Regions from separate parts of the Homo sapiens genome. Here region 1 is linked to region 2. The links come from fine-mapping of genetic effects on gene expression. A gene starts in region 2. The other region holds a variant in brackets. All regions are shown on one strand. Distances are between the middles of the regions. Region 1 overlaps CHL1 (cell adhesion molecule L1 like). Region 2 holds the start of CHL1 (cell adhesion molecule L1 like).

Region 1 (2,913 bases), 22 kb before region 2:
CTTCCACTTATAAGTGAGAACATGCAGTATTTGGTTTTCCTGCATTAGGTCCTGCATTAGTTTGCTAAGGATAATAGCCTCCAGCTCCATCCATGTCCATGCAAAGGACATGATCTCATTCTTTTTTAATGGCTGCATAATAGTCCATGGTGCATATGTACTACATTTCCTTTATCCAGTCTGTTATTGATGTCATTGATGGGCATTTAGGTTGATTTTATGTCTTTGCTATTGTGAATAGTGCTGCAATGAACATACATATGAATGTGTCTTTTTAACATAATGTAAAAATTTATATTCCTTTGGGAATATATATAGTAATGGGATTGCAGGATTGAATGGTATTTCTGTCTTCAGGTCTTTGAGGAGTCACCACACTGTCTTCTACAACGGTTGACCTAATTTACACCCCCGCTAACAGTGTACTTTCTCTTCCTTTTTCTCCACACAACCTCACCTGCATCTTTTATTTTTTGACCTTTTTTTTTTTGACAGAGTCTCACTCTGTCGCCCAGGCTGGAGTGCAGTGGCATGATCTCGGCTCACTGCAAGCTCCACCTCCCGGGTTCATGCCATTCTCCTGCCTCAGCCTCTGGAGTAGCTGGGACTACAGGTGCCCGCCACCATGCCCAGCTAATTTTTTTGTATTTTTTATTTACTGACGGGGTTTCACCGTGTTAGCCAGGACGGTCTCGATCTCCTGACCTCGTGATCCGCCCGTCTTGGCCTCCCAAAGTGCTGGGATTACAGGTGTGAGCCAGTGCGCCCGGCCTACTTTTTGACTTTTCAATTATAACCATTCTGACCGGTGCGAAATGGTATCTCATTGTGGTTTTGATTTGCATGAAACGTGTTCTCTTTCTTTGCCCATTTTTCCTTTCTGTTGTCTTTTTCCTCATAAATTTAAAAAAGTATTATTTTGTTCTTTATGTCATTCTTTATATCACAATAAATCATATCATTTCACATAGATTTGAAAGTTAGCATCCAAAGCTTAAACTTTAATTTTTATAGAAGAAGAACACATTTAGCAGCACTTGACATCATCAATATATGGGCTAAAACTTAGGGCAGGAATTTGTGCTAAAGTCAACATAATTTATTTTCTATTCAGTAAACCTTTCAATGATCAAATGATTCCTTCTTTGGAAAAGAGGATGTGGGTAACATCTTCTCTACTGACTTGAGGAAACTTAAATATGATACACAAAAGTATATTAAGGAAAAAGATATCCAAACTCCATTTGATACCATTATCATGCCATTTTAATCAACACACATCATGCTTATGATCAATAATTGAATGGAAAGGGTCTTTCATCTTCTAAAACATAACTGCTGTAAGAATTAATAAGCAGGTTCTGTCAGTGCAGAAAGTATTCAGGAATTCTTTCTGCAAGAGCACACCCTCATCCAATCCAGAAGCTCACAAAATTTCACCCATCCCAGCCCTGAGGTCTTTTGGAAATCACCCAATCACTCTGCTATTAAGAAGCCTGAAAACACGTATCGTAAACCTTGTCATCTCACAAC[C/T]ACTTATTCTTTGATTGTTTCCTGTGGAGGTTTCCTGTGCAGGGGCTGTGGGTTATAATTTACAACAGCCCCCAAAGCACCCATATCATCTTAATAGAAGTACAATAAATAAAATAATAAAACAGCCTTGCTCATAAAATCCCCTTTATCACATCCTCATTCAAGCCTAAGCTGTTCTTATCTCCCTTGCGGAATACCAACTGGTCCTCCTCTCCATTGCAATCTACTCTGCATGCAACAGCCAAGGTTTGTTTTGTTTGTATATATAAATATATATACATATAGACACAAATTACATCAACTAGCTTAACTGTTGGAATTCCTTTGAAGTTCCTATACTGCACTTAAATCCATATTGTTGTCCATGACCTACAAGGCCTTATGTGATCTGCCCTAAGCTCACCTTGTGCCAGCTGGTTTCTCCCACACTCACTGCACTGCAGGTTCTAGCCTTCTGTCCATTCCAGATGGGGCCAAATTGATTCCTCCACACCGCCTCTCCACTTGCTTCCCCTCTGCTGGGAACTCTGCTCTTCTGGCTCTTTTCCTGTTTGCCTTCTTCCCTTTCTGGCTCAGCGTGAAAGGCACCTTCTCAGATAATCCTTTCTAAAGTAAGTTTCTCCTCCCATTTTTTTCTATCACAGTCCTTTGTTTCTTTCCCGTAAAGATTTATTTATTGGCTAACATTCTTAGTAATGGCAACTCTGGGAGGGCAGGAAATCTGTCTTCCTCACAGTGCCTGGGATTTGTTCGCAGCTCAATAAATATTTGATGCATGAATAAATGAACCAATGGCTTCTTAGAATCAGAGCTACACATGCACACACACGTATACACATATACCCTTTGCTTGGAGAGACCTGTTTTCTTTCCCTGTTTTGTATCTGGGAGCACAGCTGCAACCCCATGGGTAATTTTTTTTCTGTTATTGTTCTTTTTTCAGCATGAATCTATTAATAATCAAACCAAATTATTCAGGAATTGCACAGAAGGTAATTTCTTCCCCAATGCACACAGGACCAAAGGGTGGGGGAAAATCAAGCTACTGAAAATTTCCTTCCCCTGCAGACTTTTAAACTGCTAATCAGCACAAGCAGCTTGTAGCAGACTGAGCACAAAAGGTTGCTGAAATGGCACATAACTAATTCCAGGTGATTTAATATCTTATGCTGCCTTAGTGAAAATATTGACAAAGAAGAACCACATGATTTGGAGTTTTTCTGCACTGCTGAATTCAGTGTTAGCTTCTGAGCCTCTATCATGGCATTTCCATATATCAGCATTGCTTAAGGAAGTAAGTCTGGGTGTGCCATCCAGAAACCACTGCCAAATTGGAGAAATGCTAGTTTTCTGTTGTGATTGGCCATATTTAGCAGCCTC
Region 2 (2,913 bases):
CCGGCCCTGCCCCTGGCTGAGACACTGTGGCTCGCAGCGAGCCCGGAGAGTGGGAACGGAGGGGCTGGCTTTCCCCAGCCTCCCGGCTCCAATCCCTGCTCCCCAAATTAATCACTTTCTCCGTGCTGCCTCCCCACGCACACTCACACTCCAAAAAAAAAAAAAAAGCGAGAGAAAGAGAGAGGCACAAAGAGGAAGAAGGGACCATCCGCGACCGGCATCTCCAGCCCCCCGGGCTCCGCTACCAGGAGCCATGGCAACCACGGCCCCCGGCGCGCCCTCTCGCCCCTCGGCGGTCTGGGGAGGTGGAGCTCTAGCCCCTCTCTGGGTTTTCGTGCTCCCCAACCCCACAACCCCACGGTCCATGGATTCCCCGCTCCAGGCTGGCGGCATTTTCGGAACCCCCCCCGGGCTGGGATCTAGAATCCTCTCCTGAGAGGAGGAGCCACACAGGGGCAGTGGACTGGGGGGGTCTGAGCCCCACACACCAGGCGGTGTCCAGGGGAGCGAGGGGCGCGGTGGGAGACAGAGGCCGGGACTGACCCCCAGACCAGCTAGACCTCGGAGCCCCACCCGAGAGAGGGCGGAGATCTACGGGGGGGTCTGGAATCCTCCTCAGAGAGCAGCGAGGGATGGGGTGGCGGAGGCTGGAAGCGGGAGGGCCAACCTACCGGCGGCCGGCGGGCGTGAGTGGGACCCGGCGGATTCGGGCGCCCGGTGTGCTCCGTCGACTGACCCCGAGCTGTCCGAATCCGGCCTCGGCCACCGGGGGCGGGGCGTGAAAAGGGGGCGTCTCCTCCCGGGTGCAGGCTGAGGGGCCCGGACCACCCCCACTGCGGACGAGGGACCCTGACCGCGCCCCGCTTCCTTTCCATAACGAGTGGACCCCTCCCGGAGCACCTTCAGCCCTTCCTCCACGGGAGACCCCCCCAGCGCCGGCACGAGAGATGCCAGCGGACCCCCACCCCTGACACACCTGCGCCGCCTCCGAAACGCGATCTGTCCGGCGCCTCCCCTCGGGCGCCTTCTCCCCCGAGCCGGCCGGGAGCCGGGACGGGGGCGCGCAGGGTCCGGTAAGCTCTGGGCGGATCCAGGGAGGGTCTCGCCGGCCGCTGCCCGCTGGTCCGCACCCGGGGCTGTCCGCGGAGGTCCCGCCCGTCCCCTCCCGCCGCTGGCTCTCTGGCCGCGGGAAGGCTGGAGCCGTTCTGGCTGGCACCGGGGTCTACGCCCTCCTGCCGGAGGCTGGCTCTCGCCTCTGCTCCCTTCCTGGGTTCTGCGCCGCCACCCCTCACCCACGCCGCTTATCTTCCCTCCCTTTGCACGCTCCCGCGGGACAGGGAGAGTTACAGGCTTCAGACTTTATCTCGTTGTGGAAAGCAAGAGACCAAGCCAAAAACTTTGGTCGTGCTTTTCAACATCTCCGGTCAAAAGAGGTAGGATCCCTGCTCGTTTATCTGCAAAAGCGACATTTAAAAGAAACGCCCCCCACCCCCTCCCCGATGGTTTCACTCGGTTCATGTTGCACACACAGGTCGCCAATCTGCTTTTCTCCCATTGCTGCGTCTTAGAGGGGTGTGGTGCCATGTACGTATTAAAAATTGTCTTCTTGCTTTCCTTCATTTAAGGGCGTGGTGGGGCTTGCTATTGAATTTACAAAATATGCTACGACCATCCGCTGTCAAATTGTGCATGCTTAAATTTACAGATCTTCTACTATCTCACAATTTTTGCCCTAATACAGAGTCTATAATGTTACCACATCGTTTCGTAACGTTTTTCCTACTTATCCTTTATTAATTCACTATTGGAGAGGAAAGCCTTCTGTACTCATATTCAGTGCAAAAAGCCAGTTCTGATGCCTTATGAATCCACAAACACATAAAAATATTTTAGGATTCCAAAATTCATATGGAAAAATTATAATTTTTAGCACTACATTTGATTTATATGCCACTTTATTTTTTTTCCATTATGGTGGTATTTTCCAAAATTTTTACAGGATACCACTTTTGAAAATCCTGTTGAATGCAAGTCCTCTTTGTTGGTAAGAGAATTATTGACTTCTAATTTTTACTCCACTAAGGCTGTGAGATTGACCTTACAGCCTCGTTTTGTTTTCATCTAGCTCATTGAACAATGAGGATATTTAGCTCCCCTCAGAGCTACCCTCAGAGTTGGATGAGCTATCCTCAGAGTTGGATGCCACCACCGGGAGCAGCAAAAGCGAAGGCAACTCATGATTCTGCCTCAGAAGCAATCGAATAAAATATTTTGAAAATGAATGAATGGACTTTTAAATTTTAATCATCGCTAACCTTGGGGCCTCGATTCTGTCAATTTGTGTGTGGGCACAGTTCTTACCAACTGCCTTGGCAAATTGTGAATGCAAGTGAGGGCAGGATTTGTCCTAAGTTTAAATTGTACTGCTGGAGTGATTTCTTTTGCCTGAGGCATCATTATTCACGTGGCATGTTTTCTAAAGTAGAAACAAAGATAGAATATTAAATAAAATTCCAACAGGGGGAAATACTCTGCCTGTAGAAAAACATTTCCAAGGTCAAGGAACCACAAGAGAACAACAAAGCGAAGTTGGTCTCAGGAGTTTACCATCTTCTGGGTGAACAAACATCAGCTGAGCAAGGGACTCGGAACTCCATTTTGGCCAGATGAACAGAGTACTCTTAAATATATAGCTCCTTCTTTCTTGGTGATTTGTTTCTTGACAATAGAATCATTATTTACAAAACAAATATTTATTGAGCAGCTACTATTTAATCAATCACTGGTCTGGGTGCTGGGCTCAGTAGGAAACTCAATAGGCATGGCCAGTAGCTTTTTAAAAAATCAAATACCCTCCAAATATATTAGACAGTACCAAGCCACAATACCCAAAACAAGAAGATGGCCAGTTCT

Evidence for each region. PIP is the estimated chance that this variant, and not a neighbour inherited with it, causes the effect.
Region 1: its variant is fine-mapped to the expression of CHL1 in blood mononuclear cells (TOPMed, PIP 0.98).

Annotation. Positions count from the first base shown.
Region 1 is chr3:216,724-219,636 of GRCh38, reverse strand. All of the region lies in intron 1 of CHL1 (cell adhesion molecule L1 like), which reads right to left. Among named protein-coding and RNA genes, the nearest start is that of CHL1-AS2, 21 kb to the right of the region's middle. The variant C/T (reference allele first, on the strand shown) is at 1,534.
Region 2 is chr3:195,127-198,039 of GRCh38, reverse strand. It overlaps CHL1 (cell adhesion molecule L1 like), which reads right to left and starts at 1,277. Exons shown (of 28, transcript NM_006614.4): 1 at 977-1,277. CHL1-AS2 (CHL1 antisense RNA 2) reads left to right here and starts at 699. Exons shown (of 4, transcript NR_144487.1): 1 at 699-1,073; 2 at 1,532-1,584; 3 at 2,000-2,044; 4 at 2,126-2,282.